Regions from separate parts of the Homo sapiens genome. Here region 2 is reported to be linked to region 1. Evidence: microRNA targets listed by miRTarBase, many of them from high-throughput screens and not tested one by one. Region 1 holds a microRNA gene; the other region holds the end of a gene's coding sequence.

Region 1 (5,501 bases):
TGAGCCAAGTGTTCACTCGAGTTCCAGCACAGGGACACACAGTCCCGATGGGAGCATCCAAAACGGAATCTACGATGGTGAAGAATATACATTGTCGCACACACAAACATTCTCCAGGATAGACCACAGGCTGGGCGGTAAAAACTCCTCAATAAAATTTGAATAGAAATACACAAGTATGGCTGGGGTGCGGTGGCTCACACCTCTAATCCCAGCACTTTAGGGGCTGAGGCGGGAGGATCACCTGAGCTCAGGAGTTAGAGGCCAGCCCCGGCAACATGGTGTAACCCCATATGTACAAAAAATACAAAAGTTAGCCAGGTGTGCTGGTGCATGCCTGTAGACACTAATTCAGCAGGTTTAGGTGGGGGGCGGAGGTTGCAGTGAGTTGAGATCACACCACTACACTCCAGCCTGGGCGATAGAGCCAGACCTTGTCTCAGAAATAACCAAACAAACACACACACACACACACACACACACACACACACACACACAGAAACAAAGAAAAATACCCAAGGTGATATCAGGGTATTCTCTGTATTTAAACAGTATTTTGTGTGTATACGATTATATTATATATATGATGAAATACACATCATATTTTTGAGACCCTGTCTCAAAGAATGTTCCATATATTATATGCTCACAGGAAGGATAATTCCTACATGAGTGCTTGCTTTGGCAGTGCACATAAAAAAAATTGGAATGACAGAGATTACCCTGGCCCCTGCACAAAGGTGACATCCAAATTAATGATGTTCCTGTATTTATGTATTTATTTTTATTTATTGATTTTATGTCATTTTTATTATTTATTTATTTTTGAGACACAATCTTGCTCTGTGGCCCAGGCTGAAGTGCAATGGTGTGATTTCAGCTCACTGAAATCTCCTCCTCCTGGGTTCAAGCTATTCTCCTGCCTCAGCCTCTGGGTAGCCGGAATTACAGATGTGTACCACTGCACCCAGATAATTTTTGTATTTTTAGTAGAGACGAGGTTTTGCCATGTTGGCCCTGTTGGTCTTGAACTCCTGACCTCAGGTAATTCCTGTCTTGGCCTCCCGAAATGCTGGGATTACAGATGTGCACTACCACACCCCGCCTTTTTTTTTTTTTTTTTTTTTTTGAGACGGAGTCTTGCTCTGTCACCCAGGCTGGAGTGCAGTGGTGCGATCTCAGCTAACTGCAAGCTCCGCCTCCCGGGCTCAGGCCATTCTCCTGCCTCAGCCTTCTGAGTAGCTAGGAGTACAGGCGCACACCATCACGTCTGGCTAATTTTTTTTTTTTTTTTGTATTTTTACTAGAGACAGGGTTTCACCGTGTTAGCCAGGATGGTCTCAGTCTCCTGACCTTGTGATCCACCCACCTCGGCCTCCCAAAGTGCTGGGATTACAGGCGTGAGCCACCGCGCCCGGCCCACACCCAGCCTATTTTTTACTTTTTTGAGACTGAGTCTCACTCTGTTGCCCAGGCTGGAGTGCAGTGGCTCAATCTCAGCTCACTGAAAGCTCAGCCTCCTGGCTTCAAGTGATTCTCCTGCCTCAGCCTCCTGAGTAGCTGGGATTGCAGGGGTGCACCACCACCCCGTCTGGCTAATATCTATATTTTTAGTTCAGACGAGGTTTCATCATGTTGGCGAGGCTGGTCTCAAACAACTGACCTCAGGTGATCCTCCTATCTCAGCCTCCCAAAGTGCTGGAATTACAGGCGGGAGCCACCGTACCCAGACTAGTCCCATCATTAAAATTAGGGAAAAAACAAAGATGCCCACACCTGAACAGCAAATCATTTGTTGTTCAAGGACATCTCAGATACATTGTTTGTCTAAAATACAAGTTTAACTGAGGGCCCGGTGTGAACCAAATAATGGTTCTTACATTCTTCTTGTCTGTGCATGGGTTAATATTCACATGTAGTCCCATCTAGCAAGGACTGCGGGGGGCAGAGGCAGGAGGATCTAAGCCCACTTTAGCCAGGGTGGCATAGTGAGACCCCCGTCTCATGCATTTATTTCCTGGTCACGCACCCAAGATTTCAGCTTCATTTCCCCAATAAACACTGAAGCCCCATGCACTCCACCTCCGTGCTCTTGCTCATCCCATCTGCAGGGACACTGAGGTCCCTTCAACTCCACCTGACCCCACGTGAGGTTCTATACCAGTGCCAGAAAAATTTCGATAAAGTAAGAGGTGTTGATGGCCACGCACCATGGCTCATGCCTTTGGGAGGCCGAGGCGAGCAGCTCACGTGAGTTCAGAGGTTTGAGACCAGCCTGGTCAACATGGTGAAACCCCGTCTTTACTTGAAAAAAAAAAAAAAAAAAAAAAAATTCAGGCCGGGCATGTTGGCTCACACCTGTAATCCCAGCACTTTGGGAGACTGAGGCAGGTGAATCATTTGAGGTCAGGAGTTCGAGACCAGCCTGACCAACATGGGGAAGCCCCATATCTACTAAAAATACAAAATTAGCCAGGTGTGGTGGCACATGCCTGTAATCCTAGCTACTCAGGAGGCTGAGGCAGGAGAATCACTTGAACCCAGGAGGCTGAGGTTGTATGGGCCGAGATCATGTCATTGCCCTCCAGCCTGGGCAACAAGAGTGAAACTCCATCTCTCTCTCTCTCTTTCTCTCTAACACACATACACACACATACGCACACATTCGAAAAGCAGTCAGGCGTGGTGGTAAGCGCCTGTAATTCCAGCTACTCAGGAGGCTGAGGCAGGAGAATTGCTTGAACCTGAGAGACAGAGGTTGGAGTCAGCCGGGATCGTGCCATGGCCCTCCAGACTTGGCAACAGCAAGACTCCACCTAAAAAATAAATAAATGAATGAATAAAAAAGAAAAATACAAATATTAGCTGGGCATGATGTCAGGTGCCTGTAATCCCAGGAAGCTGAGGCAGGAGAATCACTTGAACCCAGGAGGTGGAGGGTGCAGTGAGCTGAGATTGCACCACTGCACTCCAGCCTGAGTCACAGAGCAAGACTCTGTCCCAAAAAGGACCATTTGAGCCCAAGAGACCTAGGTTGGAAGTGCCTCTGTACTCCAGCCTGGGCCACAGAGACCCTGTCTTAGAAAACAAAAAAAACCCAGAACCCCAACATCATCCAAGTCTGATGATAAGCATGCAAATATATTACCAACATCAGCATCAACTTCAACACTGCTTTTCCCAAACAGTAACTCTAAAGGGAAGCACTTTGTTTTTTCTCAGACAACAAACAGAAAGTGCTTCCTCTAGAGGGTCACAGCATGGGATCTTCTTGCTCCAGCACTCTGGGTTTCTTGTTGGAATTTTCCTTGACCAGGTTAAAATACACACAAAATAAAGATGCATTTATTGGCCCTGTTTGCATATTTTCTGGAATCCAGAACATAAACCCCTAAAAGGACCATCTCCAGTTCCTTGCTTCAAAGGCTCAGCAGGTTAGCCTTGTTCACCAAGGGGCAACCCTCCTGAGTTTTGTCCCCAAAGAGAAAAAGCAAAGCCTACTACACATACCTTATATTTAACCAAGAGATTAGGGCAGAATTTCCAGAGAACAGCAATGGATTTTGAGCCAAGTGTTCAGCTGAGTTCCAGGACAGGGGCACACAGTCCCGATGGAAGCATCCAAAATGGAATCTACAATGTTGAAGAATATACATTGTCTCACACACAAACATCCTCCAAGATAGACCACAGTCTAGGCTGACTCTACAGGACCATTTGAGATTAGGGGTGATGGCTCACAGCTGTAATCCCAGTACTTTGGGAGGCCAAGGCTGGTGGATCACCTGAGGTCAGGAGTTTGAGACCAGCCTGCCCAACATGGTGAAACCCCATCTCTACTGAAAACACAAAAATTAGCTGGGTGGGGTGGTAGGCACCTGTAATTCCAGCTATCTGGGAGGCTGAGGCAGGAGAATCACTTGAACCCGGGAGGCCGAGGTTGCGGTGAGCCGAGATCGCGCTATTGCCCTCCAGCCTGGGCAACAAGAGCGAAACTCCGCCTCAAAAAAAAAAAACAAAAAAACAATAATAATTAGCAAGACCTGATGGCAGGCAACTGAATTCCCAATGATTCGGCAGGCTGAGGTGGTAGAAACACTGGAACCTGAGAGGTGGAGTTTCCGGTCAACAGAGATTCTGCTACTGCACTCCCAGTGAAACCAGAGTGGGTCTCAAAAAATCAAAAAATAAAAAGAGGACCACTTGAGCCCAAGAGATCTCGGTTGGAGGTGCCACCCACTCTAGTCTGGGCAACAGAGACACTGTCTTGGAAAAAAAAAACAAAACAAACAGAACCCCAACATCATGCACGTCTGATGATAAGCACGCTCTGCAAATGTGTTACCAAGATCAGCAGCATCTTCAACGTTGATTTTCTCAAACAGTAACACTCTAAAAGGATGCACGATCTTTTCTTAGACAACAGACAGTGCTTCCATCTAGAGGGTCACTGCCTGAGATCTTCTTGCTCCAGTACTCTGGGTTATTTTTTATGTATTTATGTATTTATTTATTTATGTATTTATTTTTTGAGATGGAGTCGCCCAGGCTGCAGTGCAATGGTGTGATTTTAGCTCACTGCAATCTCCTTCTCACGGGTTCAAGAGATTCTCCTGCTGCCGCCTCCCACGTAGCTGAGACTACAGGTGTGTACCACCACGCCTAGCTATATTTTGCATTTTTAGTAGAGAGGAGGTTTTGTCTTGATGGCGGGGCTGCTCTTGAACTCTGACCTGAGGTGATCCACCCGTCTCGACCTCCCAAAGTGCTGGGATTACAAGCGTGTGCCACCGCACCCGGCCTATTTTTTATTTTTTTGAGATTGAGTCTCACTGTTGCCTAGGCTGGAGTTCAGTGGTGCGATCTCAGCTCACTGAGAGCTCAGCTTCCCGGCTTCCTGTGATTCTCCTGCCTCAGCCTCCTGAGTAGCTGGGATTACAGGCGTGTACCACCACCACACTGGGCTAAGTTTTGTATTTTTAGTAGAGATGGGGATTCACCATGTTGGCCAGGCTGGTCTCAAACAACTGACCTCAGGTGATCCTCCTGTCTTGGCCTCCCAAAATGATGGAATCACAGGTGTGAGCCGTGGTACCCAGCCTTGTCCTATACTTAAAATTAGGAACAAAAAAAGATGCCCACACCTAAACAGCAAATCATTTGTTGTTCAAGTACATCTCAAATACATTGTTTATCTGAAATAGAAATTTAAGTGGGGGTGGGGCATGAATCAAAGAACAGTCCTTACTTTCCTCTTCCTGTACATGAGTTAATATTCACATGTAGTCCCAGCTACTAAGGACTGGGGAGGGCCAGAGGCAGGAGGATCTAAGCCCACTTTAGCTTGGGCGGCATAGTGAGACGCCCGTCTCGTTGCATATACGACCTGGTCATGCACCCAAGATTTCAGCTTCATTTCCCCAATGAAAACTCAAACCCCATGCACTCCACCTCCATGCTCTTGCTGAGCAGTACACATCCCATCTGCAAGGGACATTGGG
Region 2 (5,258 bases), not on the chromosome of region 1:
TGGGTAACATGGTGAAACCCCATCTTTACTAAAAATACAAAAAATTAGCTGGGCGTGGTGGCAGGCGCCTGTAGTCCCAGCTACCCGGGAGGCTGAGGCAGGAGAATGGCGTGAACCTGGGAGGCAGAGCTTGCAATGAGCTGAGATCACGCAACTGTACTCCAGCCTAGGCGATAGAGCGAGACTCCGTCTCAAAAACAAACGAACAAACTTAGCATTTAGCTAAAGAGTTCTACTTCATTTTTCAGTTTCATAGTTTTCTGTTCTGATATGCTATCCCTATTTCATTGTTAAATTTAAAACCAAGGAAATAAAGTCCTGTATTAGTTTTTTTCTTCCTTGAATATCATGATTATAGAAATCTTTGCTGATGTGGACCTAAATAAGCTTGTTGTTGAGACTTCCAGAGTTCTGTCCTGGGTAGTTTAAAAGTCTCAATTGGCCAAAACTTTAATGAGGTTTTAGTAAATCTTAATACAGAGGAAGGGAAATTTCAAAAGTATTTACTTCTTCACTGAAAGGTGTTGGTCAAATTCTTCATCTCCATGCTATTTTGGAGTTTCTCATTACTCTTTAACTCATCAAAAAATTCATTCTTTTAAATGCCTTTTGTCCTCAGCTAAGTAACAAGCATACTGCAGAAATTTGTTGAATAAATTAATGTGTGATTTCTTTTAGGATGGAAGAGTGTAGAAAGTGTCCCAAAGTTGGTGTCTGAATATATGTCCAAAAAGATAAAAGTTGATGAATTTGTGACTCACAATCTGTCTTTTGATGAAATCAACAAAGCCTTTGAACTGATGCATTCTGGAAAGAGGTAGGCTTTCTCTTTATATATCATAGAATGTAATAATGATGTTGAGTTTGAGGGGATGGAGAGTCGAAAAACACAATTTTAGTTGTCTTAAAGGTATCATTTAAAACTTAGTATGTTGCTTCCTTTTACAGCATTCGAACTGTTGTAAAGATTTAATTCAAAAGAGAAAAATAATGTCCATCCTGTCGTGATGTGATAGGAGCAGCTTAACAGGCAGGGAGAAGCGCCTCCAACCTCACAGCCTCGTAGAGCTTCACAGCTACTCCAGAAAATAGGGTTATGTGTGTCATTCATGAATCTCTATAATCAAGGACAAGGATAATTCAGTCATGAACCTGTTTTCTGGATGCTCCTCCACATAAATAATTGCTAGTTTATTAAGGAATATTTTAACATAATAAAAGTAATTTCTACATTTGTGTGGAAATTGTCTTGTTTTATGCTGTCATCATTGTCACGGTTTGTCTGCCCATTATCTTCATTCTGCAAGGGAAAGGGAAAGGAAGCAGGGCAGTGGTGGGTGTCTGAAACCTCAGAAACATAACGTTGAACTTTTAAGGGTCTCAGTCCCCGTTGATTAAAGAACAGATCCTAGCCATCAGTGACAAAGTTAATCAGGACCCAAGTCTGCTTCTGTGATATTATCTTGAAGGGAGGTACTGTGCCTTGTTCATACCTGTACCCCAAATTCCTAGGATGGCATCTGCCCTTCAGGGGGCACTAAAATGTATTATTGAAACAGCATTCTGGGCTTAAATAGGTGTATGTATGTGTTGGTTGTGACTGTACTATTTCTAGTATAGTGAACTACATACTGAATATCCAAGTTCTCAGCACCTACTTTTGTCAAATCTTAACATTTTGCCACTTCGAGATCACATTGCCATTCCTCCCCTCCAGAGGTAACAATTATCCACAATTTGATGTTTATCATTCCTGTGTTGTTGTACTTTCACTGTGTATAACCTAAACCATCTACTCTTTAGTACTGTTTTATATATTTTTAAGCCTCATACTTGCTCATTCTACAGCTTTTTTCACTCATTATTGTATAATTATATCTGAAGCTCTCGTTCATTAATTTTAGTCCTGTGTAGCAGAATTCAATTACGGGAACTACCATAATTTATCTGTTCTCCAGTTGAAGGCATGAAGTTGTTGCCAGTTTCTGTATTATAACACTGTAGTGGAACATTCTTCTGCATTGGGCTCACTGCGTGTTACCTAAGACGTATCACAGAATAAACACATTTAGCCTTATAGACATTGCCAAATTGCTCTTCAAAGTAAATGTGAGTTTTTGTGAATTACATGAGTATGGAATGGTGTTTTATTATGACTTTAGTTTGCATTTTCCTCAATTCTCGTTAAATCCTTCATTCTAATGGACATTTTATTGTGAAGAACCTGTTCATATCCTGTGCTCAACTTTGTATTGAATTATTTTTCTCTGAATAATTTTTAGGAGTTCTTTTATTCTAGACATCAATCATTTGTCAGTTTTATATGTTGCAAATATCTTCTAGTCTATCTTGTGACTTTTCTTTTTACTTTATGGTATTTTGTTGAATAAAGTTTTAATGTAGTCACATAAATCTTCCTGGTGGTGGTAAGTAACATTTAGGTTATTTTATCCTGAGAAGTATAAAGAAGCAAACAAAAATGGTCCAGGATCTTACCATCCTGATAATCCTTGACATAAAAATAAATTAATGAATGCAATATACCTAAGGGTTAGAAAATATAAATTGTTAGGAAATTATATAATGAGAAAGAAAAGCTATACACCTGCAAAAAAATGGGTGATTACTGTTAAGTTTCTTACGTATCTTTTTAGGAGTTTCTATGCACACAATAGCATATATATCCTCTAAAATTACACGAAAGGAATACTATCAACACTACTCTGTGAACTTTTTTCTCCACATGATAACATAGAGTTTATATCAGTGCATCACGTTTACCATGCAAATATCTTTTGGTTGGATTGATGCTATGTGCTTTTTCAATTTATTGATATGGTTTAAATGCTCCCACAGAATTGTGTGAGAGAGCAATATGTCATTGATTGAAAAGTGGGAAACAAACTGGTAGTAATGGTCAGGATTTCCCCTTTTCAGAACTTTGGTGCATTTGAAGTGCCTGACAATGTAGTCCAGCTTCCCTCCTGTTTTACCTAGAGGGCTGGAGATATGAGGGCCCAAAGGGGCCACAACTGTTATCTTAAGTGGACTGAAAGGAAGACGAAATTAAAACTAGCTTCTACTCCACTTGTAGGAAATGTGCTTTTAATCTTTGGTGTAGCCCAGCCTTCTAGGAACAAAAGTATCCTATGTTGGCAACTGCAGTAACAAAACAGTTATGGAGAGTATGGAGGAGAGCCAGTAACTCCTAAAGGTCTTGTTCCTTTGACTTTTCTTCTCAAACAAACATGAGATATTCATGAATTGCAATGGCAAACGTTTTTTAGGTTCGCCAATATGAAAATGTAAAGCAGTTTTAAGATGATTAATATTAAAATAGGCCAAGTGCGGTGGCTCACAACTGTAATTCCAGCACTTTGAGAGCCCAAAGTGGGAGGATCACTTGGCCTCCGAAGTTCAAGACCAACCTGGGCAACACAGATGTCATCTCTAGAAAAAAAAAAAATTTTTTTTTTTTAATTGGCCGGGCATGGTGGCATGTGCCTGTGGTCCTAGCTACTAAGGAGGCTGAGTTAGAAAGATGGCTTGATCCCAGGAGGTCGAGACTGCAGTAAGTCATAATCGCAGCACTGCACAGCCTGGGCAACAGAGTGAGACCCTGTCAAATAAATAAATAAAATACTACTCTAATTTTTGTAGCTAGCCTATTATTGAATTTGCTTTTCATTTCTGGCACAGTTAAGTACATACTCTTGAGCCAGCTGATTAAGTTTAGTATTAGCATTTCCTGGCTGAAAGCACAACTATCTCTTTCAGAGATCCAGTATAAAGAATCAGTTTTACAAAATCTGTGCTTGAGCCCGGGAGGTCGAGGCTGCTTTGAGCTGTGATTGCACTACCGCACTCCAGCCTGGGTGGCAGAGTGAAACCCTGTCACAAAAATAATAAAAATAATCAATTTTACAAAATCTTTACTATTAGAATTCCTGGGTCATGAGACTCGGCTATAGTTGTCAAGTCTTTTTTTTTTTTTGAGACAGAGTCTGTGTTGCCCAGGCTGGAGTGAAGTGGCACGATCTCAGCTCACTGCAACCTCTACCTCCCGGGTTAGAGCGATTCTCCTGCCTCAGCCTCCCGAGTAGCTGGGATTACAGGCGCATGCCACCATGCCCGGCTAATTTTTGTATTTTTTGTAGAGACGGGGTTTCACCATGTTCACCAGGCTGGTCTTGAACTCCTGACCTCAGGTGATCCACTCACCTCAGCCTCCCAAAGTGCTGGGATTACAGGCGTGAGCCACTGCGCCTAGCCAAGTCTTTCTTTTTAAGATCATTTTAATACATCGTCTTGAATTGAGGAATTGCTTAACATATGTATGTTATATATGCTAAAAACTGCCAGGCGTGGTGGCTCACACCTGTAATCCCAGCACTTTGGGAGGCCGAGGCAGGTGGATCACTTGAGGTCAGGAGTTTGAAACCAGCCTGGCCAACATGGTGAAACCCTGTCTCTACTAACAAAAATCAGCTGAGTGTGGTGGCGCACAACACCTGTAATCCCAGCTACTCGGGAGGCTTAAAGCCAGGAGGCAGAGGTTGCCGTGAGCCGAGATCGCGCCACTGCACTACAGCCTGACCGACAAAGCAAGACTCAGTCTCAAAAAAAAAAAAAACCAACCAACCATTCACTAAGTGCATGTAAGCAAATCTACCCTGGTTGTCCCAAATTGGGATTCAACCACTTTAGAAGTCTTGTTAGACATTTTTTCAGTGGATACATAATAGTTGTATGTACTTACCGAGCATGTGATATTGATATGTGCATACAATATATAATGATCACATCAGAATAACTGGAATATCCATCACCTCAAACAATGATCATTTCTAAAAGAACATTCCAAAGCTGCTCTTTTAGCTGTTTTGAAATATACAATAAATTATTAATTGTTGGGAAACTTTTGAAAGTTATCTTTAAGCTGCTTTTTTGGACAAGAGGTATATAATTGCAATACAGATGGATATTAACTTCCACTGTATATTTCATTAAAGCTGGTAAAATTTTTTTAAAGGATCTAAAATTTTGCCATGTAAGGAACTTAAGCATCTTTATGTTTAATTGCAAAATTTTTATATTCCCAATATAAAAATTTCTCTTCAAGTATTTCCTGCATTGCCATTTTTAGCATGTTTGGCTATTCTGCTATGTAACCTACCTAGTGATACTCGCTGGAGACAGTCCGTCTACAGGCATGTCTGATAGGCACAAGTTCTTTATTCACACAAAACTAACATATA

What was found. Region 1 holds the annotated microRNA hsa-miR-520g-5p (UCUAGAGGAAGCACUUUCUGUUU, at 3,228-3,250, opposite strand). A microRNA usually pairs through its seed, bases 2 to 8, with sites in the 3' UTR of a target mRNA and lowers its output. Matches are read on the target gene's strand: a 7mer-m8 pairs with bases 2 to 8, a 7mer-A1 pairs with bases 2 to 7 and ends in A, and an 8mer does both.
Region 2: miRTarBase lists ADH5 as a target of hsa-miR-520g-5p. The part of its 3' UTR that is shown has no 7-base or 8-base seed match.

Annotation. Positions count from the first base shown.
Region 1 is chr19:53,740,277-53,745,777 of GRCh38, reverse strand. It overlaps MIR520H (microRNA 520h), which reads right to left and starts at 3,266; the gene lies at 3,179-3,266. MIR517C (microRNA 517c) reads right to left here and starts at 4,465; the gene lies at 4,371-4,465. It overlaps LOC124904765 (a long non-coding RNA gene), which reads right to left. Exons shown (of 6, transcript XR_007067334.1): 2 at 3,511-3,633. It also overlaps the pseudogene RNU6-982P.
Region 2 is chr4:99,068,132-99,073,389 of GRCh38, reverse strand. ADH5 (alcohol dehydrogenase 5 (class III), chi polypeptide) reads left to right here. Exons shown (of 9, transcript NM_000671.4): 8 at 679-817; 9 at 949-2,412. The coding sequence ends at 973. Among named protein-coding and RNA genes, the nearest start is that of ADH5, 18 kb to the left of the region's middle.